4 separate regions of the Homo sapiens genome follow, and all the other regions are linked to region 2. The links come from fine-mapping of genetic effects on gene expression. A gene starts in region 2. Each other region holds a variant in brackets. All regions are shown on one strand. Distances are between the middles of the regions. Region 1 overlaps SORL1 (sortilin related receptor 1). Region 2 holds the start of SORL1 (sortilin related receptor 1). Region 3 overlaps SORL1 (sortilin related receptor 1). Region 4 overlaps SORL1 (sortilin related receptor 1).

What was found. PIP is the estimated chance that this variant, and not a neighbour inherited with it, causes the effect.
Region 1: its variant is the best candidate, but not a certain one, in a credible set for the expression of SORL1 in whole blood (TOPMed, PIP 0.57).
Region 3: its variant is the best candidate, but not a certain one, in a credible set for the expression of SORL1 in monocytes after R848 (Quach 2016, PIP 0.64).
Region 4: its variant is the best candidate, but not a certain one, in a credible set for the expression of SORL1 in monocytes after Pam3CSK4 (Quach 2016, PIP 0.66).

What each region holds. Positions count from the first base shown.
Region 1 is chr11:121,611,884-121,619,987 of GRCh38, forward strand. SORL1 (sortilin related receptor 1) reads left to right here. Exons shown (of 48, transcript NM_003105.6): 40 at 853-949; 41 at 2,988-3,172; 42 at 6,891-7,010; 43 at 7,870-8,034. Among named protein-coding and RNA genes, the nearest start is that of SORL1-AS1, 160 kb to the left of the region's middle. RefSeq lists a silencer at 2,637-2,931. The variant A/G (reference allele first, on the strand shown) is at 4,190.
Region 2 is chr11:121,449,027-121,457,130 of GRCh38, forward strand. It overlaps SORL1 (sortilin related receptor 1), which reads left to right and starts at 3,288. Exons shown (of 48, transcript NM_003105.6): 1 at 3,288-3,590. The coding sequence starts at 3,306. It overlaps SORL1-AS1 (SORL1 antisense RNA 1), which reads right to left and starts at 3,941. Exons shown (of 3, transcript NR_183636.1): 1 at 3,649-3,941; 2 at 670-873. RefSeq lists enhancers at 2,245-2,304, 3,695-3,884, 3,895-3,944, 3,985-4,054, 4,075-4,124 and silencers at 3,175-3,224, 3,355-3,404, 5,249-5,298.
Region 3 is chr11:121,569,078-121,577,181 of GRCh38, forward strand. It overlaps SORL1 (sortilin related receptor 1), which reads left to right. Exons shown (of 48, transcript NM_003105.6): 23 at 1,080-1,193; 24 at 5,164-5,286. Among named protein-coding and RNA genes, the nearest start is that of SORL1-AS1, 120 kb to the left of the region's middle. RefSeq lists enhancers at 877-926, 1,037-1,206, 1,667-2,168, 2,169-2,668 and a silencer at 7,718-7,797. The variant G/A (reference allele first, on the strand shown) is at 4,451.
Region 4 is chr11:121,493,656-121,501,759 of GRCh38, forward strand. SORL1 (sortilin related receptor 1) reads left to right here. Exons shown (of 48, transcript NM_003105.6): 6 at 3,214-3,394. Among named protein-coding and RNA genes, the nearest start is that of SORL1-AS1, 45 kb to the left of the region's middle. RefSeq lists an enhancer at 4,484-4,984. The variant G/A (reference allele first, on the strand shown) is at 3,263.

The DNA.
Region 1 (8,104 bases), 160 kb after region 2:
TAATCCCAGCACTTTGGGAGGCTGAGATGGGTGGATCACCTGAGGTCGGGAGTTCGAGACCAGCCTGGCCAACATGGTGAAACCCCGTCTCTACTAAAAATACAAAAATTAGCCAGGTGTGGTGGTGCATGCCTGTAATCCCAGCTACTTGGAGGCTGGGGCAGGAGAATCGCTTGAACCTGGGACGCAGAGGCTACAGTGAGTCAAGATCATGCCACTGCAGTCCAGCCTGGGCAACAGAGTGAGACTCTGTCTCAAAAAAAAGAAAAAAAGAAAAGAAAGAAAAAAGAAGTGGGCTTATATGCTTCTTGTCTTGTAGTCTTTGATCTTGAAAATATTTTTGTTCGTTGTCCCATATTTAACGATCTTCAGATCAAATCTTTTTATGAGCTCAGGACTTGGAAAAGGTAGTCTTTCCTGATGGGTGGATGTATTTTCTGTAGTTAGACAATGAGATCTAACCAGCCTGTTTTGTATGGATTGTCTTCTTGGCCTTGACTGCAAGGATTTATCCTTAATTTCCATGGCCTAATTATCTTTCCAGTGTTTCCTCTTTCTACCTTTATTAATTGGTTCTCGTCCTTTTATTCTTCATTCACTTTTTTGTTTCATTGAATCTATAAATTAAATATGGTCTCGTTTGTTTTTAGAAGTAGGTGGAGTACAACTAAATATTAGCTAATGGTAGCACAAGTAGAACCTGTTTAAAATTTTTAAAAAACAACCTGTTCACTGTAAGAATGAGATACCCAAGGAAAGAACAGGAAAGAGGTGTATTTTTAATCCTGCCTTTTGTATTTAGTGTGCCCCATGACTAGCTGTTCATCTAACATGCTTCTTGGTTCTCGGCAGGTGAATGGCTATGTGGTGAACCTTTTCTGGGCATTTGACACCCACAAGCAAGAGAGGAGAACTTTGAACTTCCGAGGAAGCATATTGTCACACAAAGGTAACACTTTGGTGCTGGTCAGTGTGTGTGCAGGAAGGGGTAAGGCTGGACCAATGCTTTCCCGCTGTAGAGCTTGACTGGGGGTGCCAGGGAAGGGGAGGTATTCTCTGGAAGCTGTTCTGTGTTGACAGGTTCTTGTGCATTGAGGATCCTATAAGTGTGCTGCTGATTCTAGGCAGAGGGATTCACTCAGTGGCCCCTCGAGCCCTCCTCCAACCTCATGACCCTTAGTGGAAGTTGGGGGCCATAAGGAGGAAAATTGGACAGAGGCAAGACTAATTCTCTGCAGATGAGTTTTGATTTCCAAAAGAAAGAGTTCTTAGATATAGACAGTTACCTGTCTGTCCTTTCTAGTCTGGTTCACTCTCCCGTTGCTAATGAGAGACAGCAGAAGGCCTTATGCATAACTGGTGTTCAGTAAATACATGTTGACTGGAGAAATGGACAACAAACTAAGGGAGGAGTGGTCCAGTCCCTGTTACGTATGTACCAGCAGCAAGTCTCAGCTAAAATTCCTCTATCTAAGCACGTGCTAAAGGATGGATTTTAATTTATTTCTAAGTGGCGAAAGCTGCCTGTAACTGTTGAGAATGACTTGGGAGCTTCTTCCTGTCTCCTCCTTCTAGGCTGTGAAGCACTTTCAGTCATGTTTTTATTGAGTCCTTGTCATAGCCTTATAAAGTAGAGACTACAAATGTTCTATTGTTACTTTTTTTTTTTAACTGAAAGTCTACAAGGTGCCCGAGGAGGCTGTTATTTTGACTTTTGCACATTGAGCACCTACCATGTACAGGCATTTACACAGGCATTCTACGCATATTATTTACATAACCCCAAGTATAATTCCGTGAGATATGCCCGCTTTACAGAGGCAAAACTGAAGTTGAAAGAATAAGTCATACGCTCAGACGGTGGCAGAGCCAGGATTGGAACCCACATCTTTCTAACTCCACAGCCTATGATCTCATTGCCTTAGTGTTGCCCCAGTAGAAACTGGCAGAGTCAGGAGCAGAAGCCTTAACTAGCTGTTGTTTGAAATCTATTAGGGCTAGTGCGATGCTAGGCATTATGCCAAGCACTTCCTAAGCATTTTCTTTTTTTCTCCCTGCCAGCCAGCAGCTGCTGTAAGTGCTGTTATTTTTTTCTCCATCTTACAAACAAGGAAATAGAGAGTTTAAATACTTTACCCAAGGTTATACAACCACAAAGTATAGAGTCAGGCCTTAAACCCCAGTCCTTCTGATTCCAAAGGCTATCTTGTTAGCGTAACCTCCCCCTTCTCACTTTTCTTTTTCTTAGTTTTAATAGCATTTCCTCTGATCAGAAAGGGGATACATATTTGTTTCAGAAAATTGAGAGAACAAAAAGAGTGTAATGAAAATTAAAATTGCCTATAATTTCACTTTTACATTTCAGATATCTTCTAATATATTTTTCCATGGATTGATCTCTTTATATCTTTTTTCTAAAATCAGAATAATGCCATAGGTAGTATTGTATCCTGCCCTTTTCACTTCACATAAAATTGTGAGAATTTTCCAGTGTCATCAAATATTTTTGAAACAACCTTTAGTGCCTGCACAGTAGTTGATGGAATGCACATTATTTAATTATTATCCTGTTACTAGACAATCAAATTACATTCAGTTTTTTCCTGCTGTAACACTGTGATGGGGATCCTTGTTAAACACACTTTTGAGTCTTTCTCTGACTTCATGGGATAACTGGATTGAAGGGTATGATTTCCAAGGTTCTTGTTATACAAGGCCAAATGGCTTCCAGGAGCGTTGTACCAACTCCTATCCGCGGATGGGCAGCTTTAAAGAAATTACCCAGTGCTTGTGCAGTGTGTTACGTACCGTCATCATCAGTACATAAACGTTGAATGAATTTGTCATCTAATGACAGTCCTACAGCACATGGGACTCATTTAAGTCAAGAGATTACTATTTTTTTTTAAAAAAGTGCATGTACCAAGACACGTTCTTGACTAACACCCCCAACTTCCTCCTGGAATCTCCTTTTCCTGTTTTCACAGTTGGCAATCTGACAGCTCATACATCCTATGAGATTTCTGCCTGGGCCAAGACTGACTTGGGGGATAGCCCTCTGGCATTTGAGCATGTTATGACCAGAGGGGTTCGCCCACCTGCACCTAGCCTCAAGGCCAAAGCCATCAACCAGACTGCAGTGGAATGTACCTGGACCGGCCCCCGGAATGTGGTGAGTCAGCCAGAATGACCATCACAAAGTGAGTGTGGACTGTCCCCTAATGCTACGCCACCACACAACTCCAGGGCTTTTCTCTCTTTTGCAAATGTTCCGGTGCCCCTGCTGCTCTTGGATATAGGCCTTTCTTTTTCCTTTGTTTTCATACGTGCATTATGATTCACTATGATCAGATCTGTGCTCCTTTTTGAGTCTACTGTTTTACTTTCCACTCCTCCCCAGTGTGTCCCCTTTGCTTTTAGATCAACCGTCCCAAGGCTCTTGGCACATTCGTCCCCCTCTTGCCTCTGTACTTGGCTTATGCCCTTTCTCCTCCTTGGTGTCCTTCCCTCCTCTTGCTATGCAAGAAAATCCTCCCTTCTATAGTTGATCTCTCTCCCTATGAACTCCTAATATATTTATAGTTGGTTCCATATAGCATGATATTTCATTGAATACAGCTTTACCCTATTTGATAATTTTTGTCTGTTACTCTTACCTTCCTAACTAGTTTGTAAGTTCCTTGAAGGGAAGGATTGTTTTCTGGATTTTCTCAATGGAAAAGCATACAGAAGTAAATTTATAATAAGGAATTAGTAAATCCTTAGTGATGAGCGGAGGAACTAGCCTAGGTCTGGTCTTCTGAGGATATCTTCAGCGTGCATTTGTCACAGGGCTGAGTCATAGGGAAATAACCAAAGTTTGCAAGTAGCTGTCTGTAAAATCAGTGAAGAAGAAGGAAGAAGTAAGATTTACTGAGCAGCCAGTAAGTGCCAGGAACAATATAAAATCCGATAAACCCCTGTTCCCCCTTATTCCTTTCATTGGTTCTGTGGGTAAATATTCCCATTTTGCCAGCAAGGAAACTAAGGCTCAGTGAGGCGAAGTAACTTGCCAGAGTTAAAGCTCTCACAAGCAGTAGACTGAGTTTCAGCTCAGGTCTGGCTAATTTAACAGCCTCTGCTCTTTTGTGTGTCCCAGCACCTGACGCTGAGGCAGGGACAGTGATGAGAAGCCCTGACCTATCCCCGG[A/G]GCTCTCTTTTACCTGGAAGTTGAGTCTACTCATAAAGAACCCTTTCTTTCCATTTATATACCTGGCAGCACATGACCGCCTCATCACCCCCAACTATCTCTCCAGAGTAGGGCAATTGCACAGAACACTGAAGCCTGACTTGATTTAGGGTCTCCAATTGTGCATGAAGTTGGAGGAGGCTTCCTGCACCTCATCTCAGCTCATGCACTGGTCACACTAAAGGTGGCTTTCAGAGGTGAGAGCGCAAATGAGATCACCTGTAGGAAGCTCTCTGCTTCTGCCCCTCTTTAGTTCATTGAGGACCCTGGCAGCTCTCATGATTTTCCTGTCTACTGTGAGAAGTGCCATTGTCACTGTGCATGTGGGGAACCTCTCATCCCTTGGCTCCCGTGGCTCTGTGGACCCCTTTCCTCTCCAGAGACACCCCATCCCTGGCGGTCACCAGCCTTGTCCTCGGTGATGTCATCCTCCCTCTGTACTCTAAGCCCCGACTTGGCCTACTCCCATCTCATGCTTTGCAGCTCCACCTGCATTTGCTTTGGGACCCCTTTGAGTCCCTCAGCGCTTCTCTTTCCTACATCCTCCCAGGCGATCACCCCCTTCGGGGCTTCCCTTCCTGTTTCTCTGTCTGTGTTCTCCCATCTGTCTGTCCTTTCTCATCTGTCAACAAAAAGAGTCAAACTCTGTAAAATATATGAAAAGATTTATTCTGAGCCAAATAGGAGTGACCATGGCCCGTGACACAGCCCTCAGGAGGTCCTGAGAACATGTGCCCAAGGTGGCCGGGATGCAGCTTGGTTTTATACATTTTAGGGAGGCATGAGACATCCATCAAATACATTTAGGAAATACACTGGTTTGGTCCAGAAAGGCAGGACAACTCAAAGTGGGCATGGGGAAGCAGGGGTTTCCAGGCTATAGGGAAATTTAAACATTTTCTGGTTGTCAATTGGTTGAGTTTGTCTAAAGACCTGAGATTGACGGAAAGGAGATGTTCAGGTTAAGATAAAAGATTGTGGAGACCAAGGTTCTTTTGACGTCTTTTAGTGGCTGCCTTTAGGGGAAATAGATGACAGATGTTTCCTATCCAGATCTTTAAAAGGTGCAAGACTTTTAGCTAATGTCTTTAGGATTGGGAGGGCCTGGAAGAAAAAGATCTAGCTATGTTAATAGAGATTCTTTACAGATGCGAAGGTTCCCCCACAAAGGACAGCTTTTCAGGGCCATTTCAAGATATGACAAAGAAACATGTTTTAGGGTAAAATATTTTGATTTTCTTCCTTGTCTCATAATGTTATGCCAGAGTCAACTTGGAAAGTAAGTCACGATATATAGGATTAAATAAAACCCATCTGATGAGAATTTATGGTTTGTAGGACATGACTCCCCAGACCCCTTAGATAGGGATTTGGGCAAGATTTAAAAAATCAGAGCTTAGTCCTCACAGCTGCTGAGCAGTGCTGGAGAAAGTCACCCTGTTGCCTGGGACTTGGAAATCCCTTTGTGGATCCCCGCTCAGTTCCTGCTCATCCCATGGATCCTGCAGCTCCTACAGTCCTCGTCAAGCCCATGTCTTACATGTGCACATAACTCTTGGAGAAAATGCTCTTTGATTGTGCCTTACAAAGAAAGCTTCCTCAGCTCCCACCCTCCAGTTATAAACTCCCTCGGCTTCCACTTTCTGCTGTAAACTTCATCCCATTCCCACTTCCCTGCTTGAAACTCCCTCAGTTTCCAACGTTTACCAGTTAGGACTAAGCAGGGATGCATAGAGCAGAGGAAGTGACAGTAACAGTGGCTTCGAACAGTTTATTTCCTCTTGTAATTAAAACAAGTTTAGAGTTGAGCAGTGCAGGGCTTCTGTCGTGGCAGCACGATTTGATTGGGCACCTGAGCCCTGTCATCTCCAGCCTGTGGCATGTGTCTTCAAGCTCACCTCATGGTACAAGAGGCCTCCTGGGCCTGCAGTCATGATCTGTATTCCAGGCGACCAGAGGGCAGGAAGAAGGGCTCCTCCCTCTGTTGTAATGAGCCCTCCTAAAGCTTTTCCTGCGACACTTCTGCATCTCAATGGCTGGAAGCTCTTTGTCTAGCCTCTTCTAGCTTAGGGAGGTTCGCAGTTTAGACTTTTTCCAGGCAGCAATTCTCAATCAGAACCAGAGTTCTGAGGAAGAAAGGGAGGATGGGTACCTGTTGGACAGCCAGCCGTGTCTGCTCTCCTTCCCTCCCTCCACATACTTCCTGGGGTGTTCGCATCCACTGTGCAAGCTCCCATGGCTTTCCTTCCCACTCAGCACATCCCCTTGGAGCCCACGTCTGTGCTGCCAATGGTAGAATGACACCCCCTCTTTAATAACCCCCCGTTCCCTGGCTCATCATGTGGGTTTCTGGTGTAGCATCTAACACTCTATGTTTGCCACTTGTTATTTATAATTATGTATGTTTTTCTTCTCTGCCCGCCTCTCCTCCAGAAGGAGCGCTTTGAGGACAGAGACCACATCATATTTATTTTTGTAGCTCTACATACAGTGCCTGGCCCAAGTGCCTTCTCTGTAAATGCTGTAAATGTAATAAATGTTGAATGAAGACTTCTCTGTGAGCTCTTTTGAAGCAGTTCCAGGGTCTTAAATTGGGGATTTCAAGGAAATGAGATCATCGGCCCATGAGCTGATGTCCTCTTCCATTCTCTGCTTTTACCAGGTTTATGGTATTTTCTATGCCACGTCCTTTCTTGACCTCTATCGCAACCCGAAGAGCTTGACTACTTCACTCCACAACAAGACGGTCATTGTCAGTAAGGATGAGCAGTATTTGTTTCTGGTAAGTTTCCCATACCGTTTCAGTTTTTTAAGGGATGTCTTAAGTCCTGGGCTCTGGTCTCAACCCAGGACCTGGGGAGCTTGCATACCTGGACTCCAGGATTGATGTGTGTGACGAGAGGCAACTTCCTCTTCTTCATAAGCATCATCAGGTTCTTGCTTGAAATACAGAATGAACGGCCACTTTCACCAACTGCAGCTCCGTTATGGAGGACTGATAACTTGGCAGATGATCACAAGTATAGATAAATCAAAAATTTTTATCAGGTTCCACTTCTAGGAATTTAGCCTACATACTTTTATGTGTGTGCCAAGATATATGGAGAAAGATACATGGTACGTTATTATTCTTATGATAGCAAAAGATGTGAAGCAACTTAAATGTCTATGAAGAGAGGACTGGTTAAACATATCATGGTTTATTCATGCAATGGAATGCAGGACAGCCGTTCATAAGAAGTATGACAACTCTAAATGTACTGATATGGAAAAATCTCTACGCTATATTATTATATAAAAGAAGCCAAGAGCATAATATGTGTGCCATTTTCTCAGTTGTATAAAAAATATTTGAGGAAGATAGGCTTCATATACACGTGCATATATGTGTAAGGATACACGTACATACATATCCTTCCTTATATATGCATAGGGGATTTCTGGAAGGAAGCACAAAAACTCTTACCAGTGGTACCTCTTGGAAAATGATTTGGGGTAGGTGGGAAATTATTTTATATTTTATGGTTTTTTGTACTAACTGAATTTTAATTGTTGTCATTATTTTGTTGAAAAAATACTTTAATAAAGATTGCATAAGGCCATGATGTATTTTTTTTCCTACGTGTGTGCTTGGGCTTCAGGTCCGTGTAGTGGTACCCTACCAGGGGCCATCCTCTGACTACGTTGTAGTGAAGATGATCCCGGACAGCAGGCTTCCACCCCGTCACCTGCATGTGGTTCATACGGGCAAAACCTCCGTGGTCATCAAGTGGGAATCACCGTATGACTCTCCTGACCAGGACTTGGTGAGTGGGTTGGGCTTCCAGGCCTCTTTGTTTATTCCTGGCCTGGTTAGGGTGGGGTGGGATGGAAGGG
Region 2 (8,104 bases):
TGTCCTTGCTGCTATTTTAAACATGACTCCACCTGGATAAAAATGTAGGACACTGTGACCTCTGTGTGTTTGTCCTCTACCTCCATCTCCAGTGGCCTAAGATGGGCAGTAGGACAGAGGAGGGCAGTTTAAAGTCTGACAACAGGCTTAAGACTGTTTTATACACAGCTGTGAGTCTATCATTACATTTCCGTGCATGTTGATTTTCGTCATGATGCTGGGCAGCATCCGAGCAAGGCCATGCAAGATGGGACAGAGGGGGATATGGTACTGTCTTCCATCCTGCACCCCAACTTTGATGTTACTTCAGAGGGATAGAGGAAGTGGTAGCTTGTTTACAACCCAGAGCTGGTTTTGAAGCTGAGAGGAACACCTCACTCATATTGCACGATTCAGCTCTAACTCCTGTCCTGGGTGACCTTGCCTGTGGCTGCTCCTATCTCACAACCCAGTGGGGGTCCTGAAGGTTTGGGAGTGGTCAGGGCTGAAAGGTGTCTTTTCATTTAACTTATGAAGAAATCGTAAGAGACAAGATGATCAAGACAAAAAATTACATAATAATTTGGTTGCAAAGCCAGGACTAGAATCTATGTTTCTAATGCCACCTGCATGCACTATTTCTCTCTGGAGGCCTTCACACAAATTTGCACAGCTATTTTATATACTTACCTCATCTGATACTCTCAGCAGTCCTGTGAGATTGGTAGGGATTAAGATCTCTATTTTACAGATGAGAAAACTGAAGCTCTGAGGAGGTTTGGCCAAGTCCCCACAGCTAGAAAGTCAACCTTCTGACTCAGAATTCAGCGTGTCTTCCACTGCGTTCTGTAGTTGTGCAGCAGGCACAGTCTTGGGGGGTTGCTGATTATCTACCTGAGAATGGTTTGGAATGTAGATAATGATTAGATAGGAGGGCTTGCAAGGAGTTAATTAACCATGTTTGAATATTCTTACCAATTCTCTAGCATTCAAGTTGCAAATCAACATCAAAATGAGCAAGTAGCTGGCCCTGCCCTACTAGTCCTTCTGTGCAAGGGGCCATCTGAACCTTAAGCCAGCAGTTTGTGTGGGCAAACAGATGCCCATCTTCAAATCCACACTTAGGAGACTCCTGTCTCTGTTTTCTGCTGGGACTCTGACACTTGCTCTTGCAGAGAAGGTTCTCATTAAATATATGTTGGAAAAACCCCAATAATTGAATCATCTACAGGATGTTCTCACTTTAGCCATATTCCCTTCATTTTCCTTTGAGGGCTAAATGGGAGTAGAGATATCTTTGCTGCTGGTCCTGAGAGACCATGGGGTTGTCCATTCCTGGTAAGGTGATGCTGACCAGACAGAGCTGATCTAGATGAGGGGTGGGAGGTGACAGTGGTTCAGTGGCTTTCTTGGAGGATGCATGATTGTTTGAATTATTATTTTTAATTGACATATATAAGTATATAATAAATATATATGTTATATATATGAGTTAGAGCTGAATTGCACAATATGAGCAAGGCGTTCCTCTCAGCTTCAAAACCAGCTCTGGGTTGTAAACAAGCTACCACTTCCTCAATCCCTCTGAAATAACATCAAAGTTGGGGTGCAGGATGAAGGCACCCCAATAATACCACACTGGGGAAAGTGTGGTATTTTGATACCTGTATACAATGTATAATGAACAAAGCAGGGTGGTTAACATAGAGAATGCATGATTTGCTTGGTGGGGAGAACTGGATGGTTCTGTAATTATGTTGAGATGGACAGAAAGACATCATCTGACTTGGGGAGAAAATCGGGTGTGGGAGGAGGTGGGAGAGTGCAGAACCTGAGGCAGAGGTCCCCAGCAAGTCTGGCATGGGGTAGGGTAGGGTGGTTGAATACTGGCTTCAGGGAGATGAGGCAAGCTGGCCTGACTCTGGCAGGTTGTCAGTGGTAGTCCTAGGTAGAGGAGGGGGCTTTGCTAAGCTACCTGAAAAGTACTAGAGTGGGCCGGGGTAGGAATCGGGCTACCGTGGCTTGTCGGAGATGAGGAATGTTTTTAGAAAATTGAACTGACCATCCCTTCCTTCCCCTGAACAGCAGCTTGTATGCAACTATAAAGGTAGTCTCCCTTTCAGCCCTGCTTGCTGTGTCTTTATTCTTATCAAAAACCAGGATCTGAGTTCAGAGGGCAGTGAAACATAAAATGAAATAGGAAAGGTTGCAGTAGTACATAGACTTTGGCTGCTCCCACTAACCTGCAAAAAAAATATTTTCCTTGGGCGTACCTTAGCAGTTCCATGGCAGAAGTTTTATCTCCTGTGGTTCAGAGAGTTTGGCTCGTCAAGCTGAATGTAGGGTTAAAGTGTGTCCTCCCTCCTCTGTGGGTGTTTGCCTAGCTCCTGGCTGTGGGTTGAAGGGACTGGTAAATATGTCTATTTTACTGCTGAGGCAGGGTGGCTCAGTGCTTGGTCACCTTGGAGGGATCATAAGCAAGCCGCCGCTGGGGCCCTGTGCCACGCACAGGTATTCATGCGTGCGTGCAAGCACACCCTGTATAGCTGTGTAATAATTGTCCAGGTGTGGTGCATTCTTTGTCAGATGTACCCTTGTTTTTACTGCCTCTGTGCAGGATGTTTATTTGCTGTGCTTCAGGCTGGGGCACGTAGCTTGATCAAGGGTAGTTTTTGCTGTGGCCCCTGCAAATACGTTGTGGTGCCCAGAGTAGATGAAAAACTGTGAGTTTCCCAATAGAGCGGGTTCATCTGGACTCTTGTTGGTTGCGTTCTAGGAGCTAATTCTGTGGCTCTGGACTCTTCCCTGGAGGTGGGGATGAGGCCGGGGCCGGGGGGAGGTGGTCTTGTGGCGCTACTGCGGGCTGTGCACTCAGGAAAGTGGCCACGGTTTAGGACGACCTCGACACGACCCTGTATAGGACGCAACTAACTCCAGAGAAAACGAGCGAGCCCCATGCAACTCTTCATTCCTGCAGGGAGAACAAGGAGGTGTGCCCGCCAGGGAAGGGACGCACCCCCACCGGCGCTCGCTGCCTTAACTTCCCCATCCCCGCGCCAGGGAGGGGCCGGAGTCGCCGCCGAGGCCGCCGAGCGCAGAAAGTGCGCGAAAGGGACGCGCTGCGAGCCTCACACGTGACGGCGCCGCGCCGAACCGAGCGGGACCTGGCGGCAGCGGCGGCGGGCGCAGCGGGGCGGCCCGGAGCGGCGCGGGCGGCCTGGAGCCCCGGGAGCGGCGCGCGCGGTCCCGGCCCAGCGGCTCTCCTGGCCTCGCGCTGCACATTCTCTCCTGGCGGCGGCGCCACCTGCAGTAGCGTTCGCCCGAACATGGCGACACGGAGCAGCAGGAGGGAGTCGCGACTCCCGTTCCTATTCACCCTGGTCGCACTGCTGCCGCCCGGAGCTCTCTGCGAAGTCTGGACGCAGAGGCTGCACGGCGGCAGCGCGCCCTTGCCCCAGGACCGGGGCTTCCTCGTGGTGCAGGGCGACCCGCGCGAGCTGCGGCTGTGGGCGCGCGGGGATGCCAGGGGGGCGAGCCGCGCGGACGAGAAGCCGCTCCGGAGGAAACGGAGCGCTGCCCTGCAGCCCGAGCCCATCAAGGTGTACGGACAGGTGAGCAGTTTTGCAACCCGCCTCCCTCCAGTTTTTTCCTCTCCCTGCACTTCCTCACCCCCGCATCCATCCGTTGCAGTCGCCTCCTAGGTGCAGGCACCACTGGGGACTTCCCGGCTTGCATTTGTTTTTTTCCTTCACGAGTACAACCGTCAGCACTTGAATCGCATTGATCTTTCCTTCTTCCTGTCGATTTAGTAAACGTATTCCAGGTAACTCGCCGGGTGCAGTGCGTATTACCCCAGGGTGTGTGCAGAGAGATGTAGTTTCCGGCAGGTATAGGAGGGGTGCAGCTTCATTTTACATCTGGATAAAAAACGGGCTTTCTTTAGTGTATCATCAGTTGGCAGTGGAGGCGAGCACCCTGCAGTTGCGGTACACTTACACAGAACAGCACGAGGTGGGGGTTTCCACACTTAGCATTATTAGCACAATAAAAGTGGGCAAACCTGAAAGCTTGTCGACTATCTCTGTACAGTCAGACAAGAGGTGTGTGTATGTGTGTGCGTGTGTAAAGGCTGAATTTTTAATTTTTAATTTTTGGCGAGCGTGTGAGATGCTCTCCATTCCTTCTTCCCCACCCTTCAAGATGCTGACTCTCCCACCCCCGTCAAGATAACTTTATTTTGGAGAGGAATACCCCTCATGGCACTTGGAGATTTGAAAGGACTGCAGGAAATTTGGTGGGCATTATTATTCTATAAGTGATTTATTTCTACCCAGGCAATAGGTTTATTAGATCATAAGTAACGTGAATTTCACTTTTATGGTCAGACTTACTGCGAGGAATTGCAGATGGAGTTTGTAGGTTAGGATCAGCACTGGCAAAATTAATTTGACCGTGTTATTGCCTCATGAGACTCCCAGTCCTGCAGTTAAGATTGACATCAGCAAAAGTATAAGGTCGGTGGGGGAGAAAAAGTAGGACCAGAGGAGGGGGTAAATACACTTGTTTTCTAGAGTCAAATTGTTCCTTTTGAAGTAGAAATTATTAATAAAAGATTACCCTGAGTTCTGCCTTTTCTCACTAATTTCACTTTAGCCATTTCTTCAGGAAATACAGAGTTAAATGTTCAACCCTTGGATCCAGGACGAACCTTGTAAACATATCACCCTATTGTGTCATTTTGTTGGTGAAGAAACTGAAGCGTGGAATGGTGAAGTGACTAGTCCAAGGTCATACCGGGAAGGTGGCCTGCTCTCTAGTTTTTGTCTGCATTGTCTCAGTGACCTTTGCTTGACTGCAGTCACCCTGTCTTTATGCAATGCTGCTGAAATACCTCCTTTCTAAAATAAAATAGATCTGGTATAAAGGGGGAAAGGATGGTGGTGACTGGGTGGGAGCGTTGGATTTCCCTCCACTATTGGTCCCTGGGCAAGAATGTGTGCCCCAGGGCATGTAACTAATGGTGGCCACAGGCTGCAGGAACCTGCATGCTCAGTTCCTCTTGGGCCCAGATCCTTGTCCCCCTGTCCCCACCCCATATGACAAATATGTGTATGAACAAAAAGAAGTCATCAAGGTCCTTGCTCTTAACAGCGACACCAGCATGGGGCTGATGGAGGGTGGGAGAAGGAGGAGGAGTGGCCCACTTCTTCATTGGGCCTCCGCAGTCAGCCCAGCTCTGCTGTGCTCTTGAATCAGCATTCTGGGAACTGGGAGTTGGGGGCTGGTGGGAGACAATCCCTCCCAGTGCTCAGGTCCCCTGAAGCTATAGTTTAGGTTGAGGAAAAAGTTTTCTGGTTTCAAAAATATGTGTACATGTGCCATTTCTTTCTTGGGTTTGGTTTATGAAAAGCTCCAGGGGATGTGGGGCAGGTTGGACATGAACTCTGTTCTCACTGGGAGTGACTCCCAAACCCTGGGCTTTTGAGTTTCTGGGCCAGCCAGATTGAGTTTGGTTCAGCTGAAGGATGGAGAACTAGCAGTCAAACTCATAATGAGGAATTCCTAACCGGAGGGTGAGGGTACAAGGGTGAGATTTTTCTTCTCTGTGGCTGCCTTCCTATGCCATTGTTGCCTCTTGCTCTGAGGTTAATAAGAAGTGGAATTAATTTGAATCTGTAAGGATTTGAGTCAGATAAAAGGAAGAACTTCCCTGTACTGGGCTTTCTGCCACAAGTTCTATCTGGTGCAGACCCTTCAGAATGCAAGCACAGGTTGGTGACTGAAGGGGTTTGAGGTGCCCCTCTTGGAACTCTGGAGTAACTAACATCTATTTGGAATGATCTTTCTAGCAAGGATGACCATTGCCTCTGTGTTTCCCTGGGGCAGACCTGGTTTCTAAGTTGTCTCTGGTGGTTATGAATAGCACCCCCTTCACTCTCAAAAGTGTCAAGATGTGACAATAAATTATATGGTCCTACTTTTAGCCTTAAGCCAAGTTCCACTTTGTAATCACGACTTTCCCCTTCAACGTTTAAACCTAAGGAATGGTGATGTTTTCCAACAGTACTGCTTGACTTGAGTGTGGTTCTATGGAGGTGCAGTGAGCTGGGGAATAAAATTTCATTCCTGCTTTTAGGAAATTTACAATTTAAGGAGGAGAGCAAGCAGATGCAGATACAGGCATGTCAATGTACCAGGATGGGAACCAGGAAACATGGTCACAAGAAACCAGCCACAACTCTACAATGGTGTGATAACGGGCTGTGTGACATGCAGCGCATGGGAGATGGAGAGATAAGGGGTGGTGGGCTCAGACACTGTCCAGCTTCTTGCCCTCTGACCTTTGAGTGAGGTTAAGAGGACACTGGCAGCACAGGTTAGGGCTGGAAGCAGAAGCTGCCTGAAGGAAGCAGGCCTAGAGGCGATGTTAAGGCCACCACCTTCAGGGAGAAGAGAAGGGAAGGCTTTCTAGGGGAATACTTGCATCTGAGAAAGAGCCCTGTGCTGGAGTCAATGTCGGTCCTTTTTCCTCTGCTTCGCTAATGTCTTGGGTAAACTAGGCTTGGTTATTTTGACCATTTTCCTCCTCAGTTTCTCTAAGGTGGGGAGACCGGCTTCTGCCATGATTACTTAAAGGCACATTTATGATACTGAAATGTGATTGTAGGGGTGAAAATAATTTGCTGGCAGATATCAGGACTTTTCTGCCCATGTTCAAGGCTCACGCCTGTAATCCCAGCACTGTGGGAGGCCGAGGCGGGTGGATCACTTGAGGTCAGGAGTTCGAAACCAGCCTGGTCCACATGGGGAAACCCCGTCTCTACTAAAACTACAAAAATTCACTGGGCGTGGTGGCAGATGCCTGTAGTCCTGGCTACTCAAGAGGCTGAGGCAGGAGAATCGCTTGAACCCCGGAGGCGGAGGTTGCAGTGAGCCGAGATCGCGCCATTGCACTCCAGCCTGGGGGACAGAGTGAGACTCCATCTAAAAAAAAAAAAAAAAAAGGCAAAGTTTAGAAGTTGAGCCCCTTCTTAAAGGCCAGGTCCAAGAAGAGGGATTCCCTAATTCATGCCACACTGAATTTCCTCCTGATTTCTCATAAGCTCTGTCTGTCTGCGCCATCATACCTGCTTTTTCCTCTGCCTGAAATGATCTTCCCCAACTCTTGTCCTTGCCTGGGAAGCTCTTATTCCATTCTTTAACATCCAAGGAATACCTCTTGGTATTCTCAGGCTATGGTGGGAAGAGTTTCTTCTGAGCTTGGAGGCAGCACTTACTGCCTTGTGTTAGAATTGCTCAACTGTCTCATCTTCCTGTTTGCTCCTTGAGGGCATGGATCAAGTTCTCTTGTGTTTCCCTGGCACTTGGGAGGCCCTTAATGAGTATTTGTGGACCAGCCACACACCTGGAAGAAGAGAGGCCCAGAGGGTAGGAAGCACATTCACATTATATAAAATGTATTTGTAAGGAGGAATACAGTGAACCCACACATGGATAGTGAAAATGAGATGGCTCATTCGGTAGTGAGGATGCAAGCGGCATGGCCTACAGATAGTGGAGCCCTGATTTGCCTGTGCTATATGGGAGTTATTTTCAATGAAGAGCTTGGATTCTATTTTACAGAATCCTCCCTTTTAGGGCTATCATTCTGGTTTATGCTAATGGTATTGTTTTGGGGAAAAATCCTTTGGAATAAAGCACAAAGCCTAACAGGATTTACAGGTTTATTTTCCTTCCAACAAGCTCTCTCTTCATAATTCCTACATTTTAGAAGCCAGGGAGTATTCAGTGTCCTGATTTGAGACTGAAAATAAAGTGTCTATTACAGCACAAGGCCCTGGGACAAAAGGCCTCCTTTGGGGGTGGAATACCGTTCAGCTTTAGATCTCTTTTGAGTAGATTCTTCCATGATACACTTGCTTGGGAAAGAATTGGCTGGTTGATTCTGAAGTTAGGATGTTTGACCTGTGTGCTTCCAGAATAAGATGAGAAGGCAAAGAATGTGCTGCTTCAGGTTGGCTTTTATGTAGCTGAAGAGTTGCTCGGGGCCTTGGGTTGGCTCAATAAGGGACGTGACCTTGAAAAGCTCTTCCTGGTTCCACTTGGCGTCTTTTCTTAGGGAGCT
Region 3 (8,104 bases), 120 kb after region 2:
TGTCTTTACTGCAGTCTCTGAACATAAATTGTGAAGATTTCACGGACACTTATCACTTCCCCAATCAATACCCTTGTGATTTCCTATGCCTGTCTTTACTTTAATCTCTTAATCCCGTCATCTTCGTAAGCTGAGGAGGATGTATGTCGCCTCAGGACCCTGTGATGATTGCATTAACTGCACAAATTGTAGAGCATGTGTGTTTGAACAATATGAAATCTGGGCACCTTGAAAAAAGAACAGGATAACAGCAATGTTCAGGGAACAAGACAGATAACCTTAAACTCTGACTGCCGGTGAGCCGGGCGGAACAGAGCCACATTTCTCTTCTTTCAAAAGGAAATGGGAGAAATATCGCTGAATTCTTTTTCCCAGCAAGGAACATCCCTGAGAAAGAGAATGCGTCCCTGAGGGTAGGCTTCTAAAATGGCCGCTTCGAGGGGCGGCCATCTTTTATGGTCGAAGCTGTAGGGATGAAATAAACCCCAGTCTCCTGTAGTGCTCCTAGGCTTATTAGGATGAGGAAATTCCTGCCTAATAAATTTTGGTCAGACTGGTTGTCTGCTCTCAAACTCTGTCTCCTGATAAGATGTTATCAGTGACAATGCGTGCCCAAAACTTCATTAGCAATTTTAATTTCGCCCCGTCCTGTGGTCCTGTGATCTTGCCCTGCCTCCATTTGCCTTGTGATATTCTATTACCTTGTGAAGCACATGATCTCTGTGACCCACACCTTATTCGTACACTCCCTCCCCTTTTGAAATCACTAATAAAAACTTGGTGGTTTTACGGCTCAGGGGGCATCACGGAACCTGCCGACATGTGATGTCTCCCCAGACACCCAGCTTTAAAATTTCTCTCTTTTTTTACGCTGTCCCTTTATTTCTCAGACCGGCCGACACTTAGGGAAAATAGAAAAGAACCTATGTGAAATATCGGGGGTGAATTTCACCCGATATCTGGCTGAATTTCCCCCGATAGTTACTAAAGGGAGGGAAACTCAAAAGAGAAAGACCTGTGGTCCAGCAGTAAGAATAATATTGGTTTCATTTCCTCCCCTGCCGCACTCTGATGGGTAGAGAACACCTGTCTTCGCAACCAGTATCGCTGCAGCAACGGGAACTGTATCAACAGCATTTGGTGGTGTGACTTTGACAACGACTGTGGAGACATGAGCGATGAGAGAAACTGCCGTGAGTCTTCTGGATTGGACGTTAAGCACTTACCATTACTCAGAAGCCTGGTTGGCTCTTCCCAGGCTGAGGGCCTAAGGTCTAGGGCGAGGGCCACCCATGATTGGTGATGCCCATCTAAGTTGATGGGGCTTAGATGACAGAGAAAACATATTTCCATACACAGGTAGATATTAGATATATAGGATTAATATTATATACATAATATTTTTTTAACCACCCCAGAAGTACCACTCGTTACAAGAGATTTATAAATAAACGTCACATGGCTGAAACTGAATTGATTTGGCAATCTGGGCTCTAATCTTGGCTGTGGCTCTGTAATAAAGCTGGTGACTTGGGGCGAGTAAACAGGTGATATTCTTTGATTTGGAAATTCAATATTCAGCCTTTTTAGGGATGGGAAATGAGTATTTACTCCAGTTGGTTGATGTTGGCTACCTACCAGGCTCAAGAGAGATTGTTTTCATTGGTTAGTAATGCATAGCTTGGCCTACAGTGTGGGGCCATTGGTGTACATGCCATGTAAGTGTCATCTTTAGGCTGTATAATTTTTAAGATCTGACTTCTAAAGTATAAGACTGTGGTTAGCAGAAGTTAAAACCAAACAACCACAAATAACAGATAGTTTATTAACCATGAATTTTCACTATCTTTTCTTCACTTAATTTTTAATAGCTTCGACATTATCTTATAAGGAGATGATTTGCCCTTTTGTCAGTCATGCACTCACTCAACAAGCAGTTGCTATACACCCTGTGTTCCAGGCTCTGTGCTGGGCCTGCATATATATTGCCGATCAAGGCAGAAACGGAGTTCACAGTCTGAAGTAGGAGTCAGAAAAATAGGCAGTTACAGTAGAGTGACGGGCACTGCGATGCGGAAGTGTCATATGCATGTAGGATGGGCACCCAAAGCAAACTTGGGCAGGCCCTAGCAAAGAGCTCTGGAGAGTGTCTGGGGTGAACCAAGCAGAGGTGGAGGGAATCAATTCACAGGCAAGGGAGCAGCATGTGGGGAAGCTGGCATGGCCAGGAAACTGGTTTGAGTTATGGAGAATGGGCATGGGCACAGGGGCCAAGGTGAAGTTAGATGAGTGGGCAGCGCCCAGGACAGCAAGGGCTTTGTGGACTTTATCGGAGAAGCAGTTGGGAACCACTGATGTCATGTGATGAAAGTTCATCTTTGGAAGGATAAGTAGTGGGCAGAATGCGTTTGATGGAGAGAGACCAGAAGCAGGAACCAAGTCAGAGGCTTCTCTTTTATATATTTTACCTTTGGCAACCCAGGGGCTCATTTACCCATTTGTACTGTAAGAACAGATTAATGGGAAGCTCTAGATACTCATTTAGCCAGTCATCCGTGGGGCCTGTGCCCGGCTCCCCTGCCACTTCACCCAGAAAGCAACTTGTGAAATATCCAGCTCATTAAACACATCTGGGCCCTGCAATCCTATAGACTCCCCCTTTTGGCTGATAGAGGGTTATTTACAAAGCCTTTCCTTAATCGTTTTCCCTTGGATTCAGAGGGTGCCTTTCACACCGAGGGAGTAGAGCTTATTTGCTGAATGGCAGATTTGGGAAAGCACTAGCCTCTCTGTGTCTTTTCTGCAAAAAATAAGGCCTATAAAGCCTCCTTTATCAGAGTTGCAGGAAGGTGTGATATTTGTGGGGGAATAGCCAAAGCTCTTTAAAAACATTAATGCTTATTAACAGCATTGAAGCAGATAATGGAAAGGAGTTTATTACATATCTGGGTGGGATAGAAGATGCTTCTTAGAATTAACAAGTTACAAGGAAATTGCCCAGACATAATTAGGCACAGTGGAAGCAGGGAGATACAAACCAGATGACCTCATATCCAAGAGTGAGGGACACAGGTGGCAGAGCATTCCTCCTTGTGCCCTTGGGCTTGGTTTCTACTAAATGGACAAGCTGAATCTTGTATTGGCTCCGAGTTTTGAGAGGAATGAAGACCTGCATCTTTTGGGAGGCACCTGCTGCCTCCAATGGCTTCCTCCCACCCAGCCCCTGAGCTCTGTTGCAGACTGCACAGTTGTGCATGAAGGATGGAGCTGGCCCTGCCCTCCTCCCAGCTTGGCGTGAATGTCAGCTGGGATTCACTTTCCAGAGACCCCGAGACCTACTTTCTGCTCCGTCGTCTCCCTGTTTCACCTGGCTCAGGTCTACACATGTCAGATGGAGCTGAGGCGTGGAGAGGAGGAACCAGAAGGATTTAAAACTCAGAGACTGGGAGTCAAGAGAGAGGGGCTTATCTGTGCCTGCATGTGTGTCTCCCTCATCAAGGAGGTTGCGTGTGGAGGAGAGAGGTTCCCTGTTTCTAAGCAGGGCTGCAGGAGCTGGACCGCAGTGACTGAGTACTGCCATGTGGGGAGTTAAGTGAGGCACCCTGCCAGCTGCCAGGGAGCAGTGGAGGAGGGGGGACACCGGGATGCAGGAGGGTGTTGTCAGTGGGTTTCCCTCCCTCTTACACAGATTCCTCTAGCTGGGTGACTGTCAGGCACTCAGGGTTTTGACGCGAATCCCTGCAGTCTTGTCATTTTGCATTCATCCCCTGCCTCCCACCACGAGCTCAATTACAGAGAAGAAATGGAGCCTCAAATAAGAGCTGCCAGGATGTCTAACGGCAGCATTGCTATTTGGCATTTCGTGCACGACAACCCCTCCCCCGTGCCAGCATTCTGTTCTGCCACATTTTACCTCCTGGGTCAGCCTTTCACTCTCCTGAGAGCAGCCTGCCTTCCCCTCGCCTTTCCTGGAGGGTGTTTCACGGGGTGCCAGGGATTGTGCTTAAGCACAGGAAATATCTACTTAGGAGAGGAAGAAAAATCTAATTCTGTATCCATTCTAATGCCAGAAGGACATGAGGAATGATGAGGAAGAGAAGTGACATTTGTTTAGAGCCCATTATATTTACATCCTATTTAATAGGCTCTGGTTCCAAACTTGTTCCCTGGTTTATCTTCATAATAATGCTACCAAGTAAAGGCAGGTTAAGTAAGTTGTAGGTTGCAGACTCAATTCAAATCTAGTCTTTCTGGCTGGGCGTGGTGGCTCATGCCTGTAATCCTAGCACTTTGGGAGGCTGAGGCAGGCAGATCACTTGAGGCCAGGAGTTCAAGACCATCCTGGCCAACATGGCAAAACCCCATCTGTACTAAAAATACAAAAATTAACTGGGGCTGGTGGTGGGTGCCTGTAATCCCAGCTACTCAGGAGGCTGAGGCTGGAGAAATC[G/A]CTTGAACCTGGGAGGCGGAGGTTGCAGTGAGCCGAGATTGCGCCACTGCACTCCAGCCTGGGCAACAGAGCGAGACTCCATCTCAAAAAACAGAAAAACAAATCTAGTCTCTCTGACTGTGATCTCAAGCACTAGGACACATTATCTTACCCAGTTTTACTGTTGAGAAAACAGCCGTAGGGAGATTAAAATTAATTTCCCCAGGAAGAGGTAGAGCCACGATTTGGTACCCAGTCTTGACTGACTGCAGACAGAGCCTATGTTCCTACTGTAGAATTCTACCTCCATGCTGCCTTTACCATCTGTACAATGAAGTGCTAACTTCTTGTGTGAAATTGAGCTTCTCTAATCGTAGTTTCATAGATAAAGGTATTTCTGTCACTTATTTAGGAAGACACTTTTCGCGTCTGAAGGGATCTTAGGAGGTCACCTAGCCTGTCACTCTCTCTCGCCAACAGATGACAGTTTCTCACTTTTCCCCGTCCTGTTCCGATCTGGAAGCTGTCCACAGAAAGATATGCCCTTATCTCTCTTGGTTGTAAATTTCAAGCTCTCATGTAATTTATGTCTTCTGTAAGTCTAGGTTTAATTTCTGTTGCTACAATTAATACCTGCTTTCTTCTATTTTTTAATTGGTTTTCCAGTAGGATGTTTACATTTGTGGGAAATCAATTGTACCTAAGGAATATGTTGTCTTTCTATCCCATTTTAGCTACCACCATCTGTGACCTGGACACCCAGTTTCGTTGCCAGGAGTCTGGGACTTGTATCCCACTGTCCTATAAATGTGACCTTGAGGATGACTGTGGAGACAACAGTGATGAAAGTCATTGTGGTAAGGGGACATCACATCCTGAAACCCTGCTCTGGAGAGGGGGGTCATTGTGCTCCCTCACAGGGCTGTACTGGTATGTACTGGTTTTCTGATAGCCGTCTCAGGATTTATGATATTCTAGCTGAATGGCTTTCTCCATCCACATGGTGGGGTTGAGTCATTTCTCTGTCCATTCTTAAAGAGTTTGTTTGCTGCTTTTCACGAGGATTCAGTTCGCTGGAGACACTTGCGAACTGGGACCCTAGATTCCCATTAACTCTGGATGGGACCCTAGATTCCCATTAACTCTGGATCAAGTGTCTCCAGCAGAACTGAATCCTCATGATTCATGGTCAGAAAAGATGGAGCCTGGACTCAGCTCCTGTCACTTACTCTTAGATTAGCCTTTGTTTTCTAGTCTGAAAAATGGGGAAATGGACCCTGCTTTGCCTTGGAGAGATGCTATAAGGATGAAAGGTGATGGTAAGGAAGTAAATTTCTGAATGAATTCAGGGGGTTATTAACAGCTCTACAGGCTTGGCCCACATGTCTCAGTGGGTGTGAGATTAGCCTGCTGAAGACACAAATCTGCACCTCTGTGAACTGTTCTTTTTTTTTTAACCAATTTAATTCATTCAACTCTGTTATTATTAGAAGTTAGCAGATGGTATAGGCATTGAGTGAGCATCTGTTTTCTGAATGGACATTTTTATATTTAGAAAAACAGTGGGTTACAATTCCAAGGAATGATAGAGATTCTCTGGTCCAATCCTTTTAATTTCTACTTTCTAAAGTGACTGAGGTCTGTAGAGGTCAGGGGGCTTATTCAAGGTGACACAATTAGTTTGTGTCAGAATGGGGAACTGGAATCCATGTCTCCCATTTTCTAATCCTCCACTATTTCTGTTGCACAGTACCTCCTTGTCAGTTTCATGAGACCCATCTTAGTTAACAGTCCCTGGTCCCAGACTCATAGTTGCTGACCTCCGAAGGAGACATTATGCAATCAGCATGGTGTGCCAGATTGAGGCATGAGAGGGAAGTGAGAGTGGAGGTCAGACGCTGACCCAGACGTGGTGATGAGTTGGCGGGGCCCTACTGTGCCCTCTCTCCCTGTCCACGGGGGGCAGGTCCAGCCACGCTGTGCTTACGCACATGGACACAGCCTGCTTGATTATGAGCAGGTGGTTTGACTCACAGCAGCTGAAATAAGGGGAGCAAGGGCAGCTTGTAAATCATCTCAATGCAAGTTAACCAGCAGAGCAGAGCCTAGGCCATTTCCACACAGAAAATACCCCTAGCCTGGCTCTTGGAAGGTTTTTAAAAAATTCCCAGTTTTCCTTCTTCAAGTGCCTGAAAACATGTCCTTGGAATGTGCAACTATTTCCCCTTCATCCCTGCCATTTCCTTCCCAGCACTCTTAGAAGGTTGAAATGTGTAGCTAGTTTTGCCCTAGTAAGAAGGAAACTTCACGTGGTTCCCTCTTTCTGGTATCATTGAGCTCACGTACTGGGTACATGTTTGACTGTGAAGCAGTTTCAGCCCCCTGATCCTCTGTTCATGGCTCATTCTTACTAGTTTGTCCTGAATTCATCCCAGGGTCCCGGTTAGCCCCTTCCTCTGATGCAGGTCCTCTTCGTAAGTTTCCACACTCTTCCTCAAAAATATCTGATTTACTAGCTTTGCCATCAACAAGCCTCTTGGCGAGAATGACTGAGACGGCTGCCTTGGGCCCCACGCTTGGCTGCTCCTGTTTTCTGACGCTCTGTAAACTCCATGTGAAAGTTCTATGCCACAGTCTATTTGGGCTGTGATAACAAAATACTTAGTGTAGGTAATTTATAAACAATAGTATTTTGTTTCTCACAGTACTGGAGACTGGGAGGTCCAAGACTGAGGTGCCAGCAGACTTATTGTCTAGTGAGGGCCTGTTCCTCATAGATGGTACCTTCACTGCAGCGTCAGATGGCACCTCTGCTTCTGGAAGGACTGCAGGGAAATGCTTCTATCTGTACGCAAGCGTGGCAGAAGGAGTGAACAGCTCCCTCCCACCTCTTTCTTAAGGACACTAATCCTATTCATGAGGGCTCTGCCCCCATGACTTAATTACCTCACAGGGGTCCCATCTCTTAATAATATCACATTGGTGATTAAGTTTCAACATACAAATTTGAAGTTTCAACATATGAAGTATAAACATTTGAATTTTCCTAGCCTCCAGAACCGAGAGAAATAAATTGCTATTGTTTATAAGCTCAGCCTATAGCATTCTGTCTTCATGATCTCCCCAGGAGCTTTGAAGGCTATTGCCAGGGCAGCCTCCTTCCCCTTCTTGGTCAAGCTCTGCTGGTTGGTTCTTACCAGGCCCCCACCCTTCTAGAGACAGCGCATCCACCCGTGTCCCTGGAGCTCTGCCCACAGAAAGTCCCGAGTTATGTTTCCTCCGTTTTGGGAGCTCAGCACTGATTTTACTCTCTCTGACTGAGCATCTCACGGTGATCAGCTCATGCAGACCTCTCGGCACTCCTTTTCTCAAACCACAGGCTGTGTCTGTAGGAGTCCTCTGTTTCTTGAAAGTTCTACTTCCTGGCCTCCTCTATCACTGCTTCCTAACCTTCTTCCCATCATAGCAAGCATAGAAAATAATATATGTGGAGAGCACTGGGATGAATGGACAAGGATGCTGTTGTCAAGAGGCAAGCAGCTCTAAGGGTCTGAGGGTCTCAGAATCTCAGCCCACCTGTAACCCATTTGCAGCACACTGACTGGAAGCTGTTAAATGACCTTTTGTCCCTGGTAAAAGTCTCTTCGTTCATGGTCTCTGTGGATCATTGGTGAT
Region 4 (8,104 bases), 45 kb after region 2:
ATCGTATGTGTGTGTATTTATATTTCTATCTCCTAGTTTTTCATTTGTTTTTAGACTTTTACTTGTAATTTTAGTCCTCATTAAGTGTAATGGTCCCAGAAGATGTAGATACTGCCTTTGTTTCTTTTAGTTCTCCATGTAAAGTGAAATGTCTTTTAGTTGGTATTGCTTCCTTAGTAATAGAGGTAAAGATGGAGCTGGTATGTTGAGGAGCCTTACAGCTGACCATCATCAGACACCCATAGATTCTGTTTATGTTTCCACAGAGGGTAGCTGTTTCTGACCCTTTTGTTATTTTCCTTGAGCAAAAGTTGTGGGATCTTAGTGAAATTATAACCACAGTCTCATCCAAGGACACCCTCTGCTCAAGGAGAACCATTAGAACTTTCTTCTGCTTTATTTGAATTTTAAGGGGAAAAATTGTTCTTTTATCTGCTTAAGAAACTATAAATTAAGAGGGCAAACCAGCAGAATTACTAGATAAGGGAACATACAATTTAGAAATTTTAAGTTCTAAAATCATATTGTACCTTCTGCCTCTGTGTAGATATACAGATATCCTGGGAGAAAGGACTGGTTTATCTCATTGAAGCTAATGACATGTCGGTTAGGGGATTTTAGGCTATTTGTGGGATTTCTCCCCCTAGGTTTCCCCATAATAAGTGAAAGCGTAATCTAGTCTCTCAGAATAATGATATACATTTGTTCAACAATGCTTGGCGAGTTGGGAGCAGCAGGAGTGGGAAAGCTAAAAATTTACATGGTCCGGAGCTTGAGATTGGCAAGACAGAACAGTGGAAGACCTGGAGGGGGCTGAGGGGACTCAAAGATACCCTGTGGAGCATCATTGAGGGATTTCAGGTGAGGCCAGGTGAGGCTGGTGACTGCTCAGAGATAGAGCAAGGATTGGAATTTCTCAATGAGGACAAAGACAATAGAAAGTAGGTGTCAGTGAGCGTAAGACATTGGAAGTCTAAGTGATTGCAAAGTATGAGAACTTGTAGGTGGAGCAGCTTGCAGAAATGGGAGGTCCAAATATGGATTACGGAAGAAAATTGGGATGAAAGTCACAGTTCTTTCTATCTCTAGGTGTTGGCTGCTGCTTTTGGCTAGGAAGGAATAATAGAGGTGAGCTGGGTCTCAAAATAGCTCAATAAAGGTTCCTTCCTCTCTGCCGTTTTAAAAATACCAAGCAGCCTCATTTTAATTTGCATATCCTCTGGCTAGAGGAAGTACTTTAATCAGTACTTCTAATTGTGGAAAAGAAGAGAACATGCCACCACCCGCCCACACATGCACACAGAGGATCTGATAATGAAGAATAGTGTTCTCCCACACTAGGACCAAAGCTGCTGGTTTCTCCGTTGCCCTAAGAATCCAGATTGTAGGGCAAAACTCAAGTCTTGCTCCCATTGTAAAAAGAAGCTCTTTTTTCTTTGTTTTTTCAAGACAGGGTATTGCTCTGTTGCCCAGGCTGGAGTGCAGTGGCACAATCATGGCTCACCCAGCCTCAAACTTCCAGGCTTCAATCCACCCACCTCAGCCTCCTGAGTAGCTGGGGCTACAGGTGTACGCCAGCATACCTGGCTAATTTTTTTAAATTTATTTTTTGTAGAGGTGGAGTCTCACTATGTTGCCCAGGCTGGTCTTGAACTCTTGGGTTCAAATGGTCCCCCTCCCTACCCTGGCCTCAGCCTCCCAAAGTGTTGGGATTACAGGTGTGACCCACTACATCTGGCAAAAGAGGTTCTTGTTTTTCTGTTTCTTATTTTCCTTTTTGGGAGGGGTGGGGGGAATATGCTCTTGACAGTATATCTCTGAAGGAATTTGACACGATTACCTTCATTATTCTGAGAGCCATCATGCATATGGGATTGTATAAGGGCAGTTACCTAACTGAGGCCTTCTGCTTTTCCTTGAGTCATCACTCTGTATTCTCACTACAAGACTATCTTCCCGACTTTACCATTTATTTTTTCCATTTGCTGAATGGTTCCCATGGCCTTGGTGTTCTTGAGAATGTTAGGAGACCTGGAGCAGATAAGTTGTCCTCTGAGCTGCTGTGTGGGGATTCTTGGGGGATCACTGGCTCAGAAGTTCTTCTCCAAGGTAGTTTGGCCTGGTCATTCTATGTTTTCATTTTGGATTAGCTTCTTGAATTGCCCCACAGATCCAATGCAGAAAGTATCTCTTCAGCTAGGAATACTATAGGGTAAAATGAAATCTAAGACATGGCCTTCCGAGGCATCTATACTGTGTCTAGGAAGCTCAGACAAATACATAATGGTGAACAATAAAATACAGTGTCTAAGAGGCATTACTGCATAAAGGAATAAGACTGATTCTAAAAAATCACCCAACTAAAGGGGTTTTATACCTTTGTTTGGAGTTCAAACTCATGTAAAAGGCTTGGAATTGGATGCTGCAGAGGGATGTTATTGCTAGTGTTGGGAGAAGAGAGGACAGCACTGAGGAAGGCTTCCTGGAAGATGAAGACTTGAACTTGATGACAGAGGAGAGTAGGAATTGGATGGAGGGATCAGAGTGCGTGCAGAGGGCATCTCCTCACGAGAGTGTGGTGTTTGCAAAAGCACAGTGGGAGAAAGGTGCCCTCCCTTTCTGAAGGACATCAAGGAGATCAGTATGTTTGAGAAAGAGTTTGTGGAAGAGCCTCATGGGAGACGAAATGCACAGGCAGCTCCAGATTGCCTAGATCCATGACATTGGTAGGGGACAGGGCAGAGACAGGGCAGCGTCACTTGGAAGGATCAGGCTCAGAGGTTCATGGTGTGGTTTCTCCAGTAATGTTCTTCAGAGGATGTAGCACCTTGGGAAAACTCTCCTTCATTCCTCTGAGATTCATAACTTTAGACCAGAAACTTGCTTATAGCTTCAAGCAGTCCCTTGCTTATTAATTTTGAAACATTTTATCTTGTACTACTACTTTTTGCTCTTCCTAAGCAGGGCAGGGTTGCCTTGAGCTAAACCCAGGATGCTTTGAAAACAACATAAAACACCTTGCAAATGGCAATTTGTCCCCTCTATCCTGAGTCAAGGAGTAACCAAAGGGATATGTTTGAGGCACAGAGAGTATGATCTGTGGGTCACACCATGGTAGGCCTAAACTCTAGTTGATTATCCCATTGCAAAACTTCCATGCCTCTAGTAATTAAATGTGCAAATGATAACAACCTTTTTTTTTTTTTCTGCCAGGGGAATTGATCCCTATGACAAACCAAATACCATCTACATTGAACGACAT[G/A]AACCCTCTGGCTACTCCACTGTCTTCCGAAGTACAGATTTCTTCCAGTCCCGGGAAAACCAGGAAGTGATCCTTGAGGAAGTGAGAGATTTTCAGCTTCGGGACAAGTACATGTTTGCTACAAAGGTGGTGGTAAGTTGAATGTACTAAAGAATAAACTACTTTTGAGTTTCCTTTGTGAAGTTTGGCATTCTGTGATTAAACAGGTGAGTTTGCATACACAGGAATTGGAAGGATGTGCTTGGGACAGATTGACTGAAGGGATCTCAACATTGACAACATTGACGAACATTCCGAAAGGGCTTGGCAGGTGCTAGGAAGTCAGAGGAGTGGAGAGGCCTAGGACAAACACTCAAAGTGGCTCTAGGCTCTAGGAATTTGGTTGTTTCCTGGTAGCCAAGCATCCTTGACAAAGACGTATTTCTTTGAAATCCCAATGAAAAGAACAAAGAATGGAGAGGGGAGGGTGGCTCAGTGGCTTCTTTCCTTTAATCCCACTGCCTGATTTCCTTTAAACTTATGCTGATTTCTTTGAGATTTTTCAACACATGTCAATTTACATGGCTAATAGGATGTGTAGTCATTGGCTAGTGGGAGTTAATGCTCTAAGAAAAGCAGTAATTAAGCTTCCAGCTGTCAGTAAGTAGCTTAACTCTCAGCCTTTGGGAAAATCTTCCCCTTGATTTGATGTGTTGGAGCCAGATGCCGAAATGGTGGGCTTGCTCATTCAAAACCAGAGTTGATTACTTAACAGGACTTGTCTTGAAATTGTATTGAGTTCAGTCTTTATCACCCTGGTTGTAAAGGAAAAAACCAGGCCCAGTCAAGGGCAGGTGGGGCTCTTATTTCTGGGAGGCTACTAGCTTGCTTTCCTGATGGTGCCCTTCCCTTGTTGACTCAGGGTCTGTTGAAGGCCTTTGCTAACTGGGAGGTTACTCTGTTGTCTTTCACTGTTAACCTTAGAGACTGAAATCAGACGTAATCTTTTCCTTCAGATTCTCATTTACTTCTATAATTGGTAGCAGGCCAGGTGGAAGTAGGTCAACCTTCTTAGTAGGATTTTAGGGTCAAGAGAGGATCTCCCCAGCAGGAAAAGCAGGGAGTAAGGACAGAATGAGAAGAGAGATGTGGGTGGCTAAAGGCTAGAGGCATTTCCAGTTACATACCTTGCAAAATGTTCTGAAAAACCATTAGCCTATGGCAGTTTTTCTTGTCAGGCCATTTGCATTGACCCATAGACATTGGTTCAGTGCCTTCCTGCCTTGACTGTTTCTTTATCTTTCTCTTAAACACACATGCACAAATATGTACAGCAGCCCAGAAACATAAGCATCCTCGAATGGCTTTGGGCAGGGATGGGGTGATGGGAACACACAGATAAGAAATCAGGCCCAAGCACTGGTGCCTTGTGACATCAGTTGGACAGTCTTGAGTTTTCAGTATGGTCTAAAACCTTGTCTTCAGTTCTCCAGGGTTTATAGGCCTTTTCTGCCTTAATGCCTTGGGCCTGGAGTTATTGTGTGATTTTAATTCTGAACTCTAAAACACATTGACTGACTGCCTGGTTTGTCCTCCTTTTTGCTTGAACCAGGGCAGGATGGATAGCTGTTGTGCATTTCTCTTAACCGGGTTATTTCTAGGTGTCACGGTCGAGAGTTTAAGTTATATCCCAGCTGGGCCGGGCATGGTGGCTCATGCCTGTAATCCCAGCACTTTGGGAGTCTGAGGTGGGTGGATCACTTGAGGTCAGTAGTTTGAGACGAGCCTGGTCAACATGGTGAAACCCCGTCTCTACTAAAAATACAAAAATTAGTCTGGTGTGGTGGCACATGCTTGTAATCCCAGCTACTCGGAAGGCCGAGGCAGGAGAATTGCTTGAATTTGGGAGGTGGAGGTTGCAGTGAGCCAAAATCATGCCATTGCACTCCAATCTGAGCAACAGAGCAAGACTCTGTCTCAAAAAAAAAAAAAAGTTATATTCTAGCTGGAGCTTTCTGTGCCCTCCATTCTAGTCTAACAGCTATGTCTGTTCTCCAGATGTATCTGATTTACAGAGTGCCTGTGGTGAGTTTTTAATTAAACCTGGCCAGTGGTAAGATTAGGGGTCATGTTTGTTTTGATCTCACCGATACAGTACCCAGTGCCTTGCGCTATGTTTGATACGCAGCAGATGCGCAATAGAGTTGAATGAATGCCATGTTTGCCCACCTAATTTAAAAAGTAGTCAATTTTTAGAAATTTGGTGGGAGACGTATTAAATTTTTGGTACTTTTATAGGCAATTCTTAACTCTCTGTATGGCTTATTTATTTATATGCTGTTGGTGGCAAAATTGTAGTTATGAGCTGGCTCCTCCTTCTGCACATGGATGAGCCACCAGATTCCAGGGTCAGTGGTATTAGTGAGAGGATGTAGGTAAGATGAGTTAGGCCACCACTGAGAGGTGTTTCCCAAATTGTGGTCTTAGGAGTACCCACGTCAGCATCAGGCAAGGACAGTTGTTACAAGTGCAGATTGCAGGGCTCAAATGCACTTTTCCCCAGATCATCCCAAGGTTGTCTAACAATCACCAGTTTGAGAAACTCTGCCCTGAGCCTTCTACAGGCAGATGCTTCAAATGACAGAGTTGTACTACTGTCTAGGGAATATTTCTCAAGGGATGGATTGATGGGAAAAGAAACACAACTGGCTGTGGATAGCACACAAAATATGTGCTTTCCTCCTTTTTATTACATCAGACTGCTAAACGACAAGGATAAACAAAGTTGGCCTCGGTCAGATAATCCCCTCCCAGTAAGAGTGTTGAAACCTGCAAGTGTAACTTTTTATCTGGGGTCTGCCTAGCTCTAAGGCTGCCTGAGCTTGGGAAATTCCAGCTGGCTTTAGTGTTAAATGAATTCAAATCAAATTGGGAAAATCAAAGAACTGATTTTAAAGCTACAGAAAGCTGGTTTTGCATGATTAACTCTTTTGCTTCCTTCCAGCACCATGAATGATTACAGTCCTTTGCAAGCTACTGTTTCAGCCCCCTGGCTTCTGGACTGGAGCTGGTGTCCAGGTCTTCAGAACCTCCTGGTACCCTGTTGGCCTCGCTCTGGCTTTATAATGTGCTTTGTATTTTTTGCCCTTAAGTTGCCTTGTTTAATTTTTATTCCTTGCTTTTTGACATGAAGTTCACTTATTTGTCTTCATAGTGTACATCAAAATGATAGGGCCATTAAAGAAACAATGAGGTTCCTCTGTGATTTGTTAATTTGGTAATATACAACTGTTAGGCTCTTTCAGTAGATAACAGTAATTGCTGAAAAGCTTGAGGTGGGTCAGGGTTAGCTACTCCCCTACAACCTCACAACCTCATAACCTCACTACCAGATTAAGATTATCATGCAAGCCAGGCCCAGATATTTCTTGCACAAATGTGTATCAGTAAGCAAAGACATGATCTGTGGACTTGAAGTCTCTTCTGTGACCTTACAGATGATGCAGCCACCCACGCCTTGCATGCTGCAGACGCTGTGTTCTAGAGTGGATGCTAGGAAACTATGGCCCACCACCTGTTTTTGTAAATGAAGTTTTACTGGGACACAGCCATGCTCATTGCTTATTTGTGGTCTAAGGTTGCTTTCATGCCCAGTGGTAGAGTTGCATAGGTACCTATACAGAGGCAATATGGCTCCAAAAGCCTAAAATATCTATTATCTGGACCTTTACAGATAGTTGTCTGACTTCCTGTAGTTGCTGACTATGCTGATAGTTGTCTGTTACCCCTTCAGTTGGCATCAGGTAACTGGAATCGCAATGTCTTGACAGGTCCCAGGCATTATCCAGAAAAGTATAGGTTATGGGCCTCTCTAAATTGTTATGCCCTGTTAATGACAGGATGGTATCTTTAGAATATTATGCCCAATTCAAGTATTTTGATGTCACACCAGTCTCCCAAGTGAGGGTCCATGTGTATTTTCATGATTCTGACTAAGCAACCACGAATTTCACTATTGAAAACCAATTTTCAACCTTAAGCTAATTTGCTCTCTAATGTTGATCAGAGGTAACAGAACAGTTTAGTAACTGCTACAGGGTGTTGTGGGCTTCTAGATGAGAAATCAGCTGACAAAACTGTGTTGTGAATTATAGGATAACTGACCCAAACCAAACTACTTATAAATTATTTTAACTATGTTACTTAAATGTATAAGCACCCAATGCTTATAACTCTCATACGTGATCAATAAAACCCAGATATTTACAGATTAAAAATAAAACTATAACAATACATTTAAAATTAATATTTGTTACAACTGTGTTGAGATACAATTCACATTCTGCAAAATTTACCCTTTTTAAGTGTGCAATTTAGTGGTTTTTAGTTTATTCATAAGGTTATACAATGATCATCATTACCTAATTCCAAATATTTTTATCACCTCAGAAAGAAACCACATACCCATTACCATTACTTCCTTCTCCTCCCTGATGCTGGTAACCACTAACCTAGTATCTTTATGGCTTTTTCAATTTTGGGCAATTTGTGTAATGGAAATCATACAATTTGTGACTTTATTAGTCCATTTTCATACTGCTATGATGAAATGCCCGACACTGGGTTATTTATAAAGAAAAAGAGGTTTAATAGACTCACAGTTCCACATGGCTGGAGAGGCCTCACAATCAAGGCGGAAGGTGAAGGAGGAGCAAAGGCATGGCTTACGTGGCGGCAGGCAAGAGAGTGTGTGCAGGGGAACTGCCCTTTATAAAACCATCAGATTTTGTGAGACTTATTCATTATCATGAGAACAGCACAGGAAAACCCGCCCCCATGATTCAGTTACCTCCCACCAGGTCC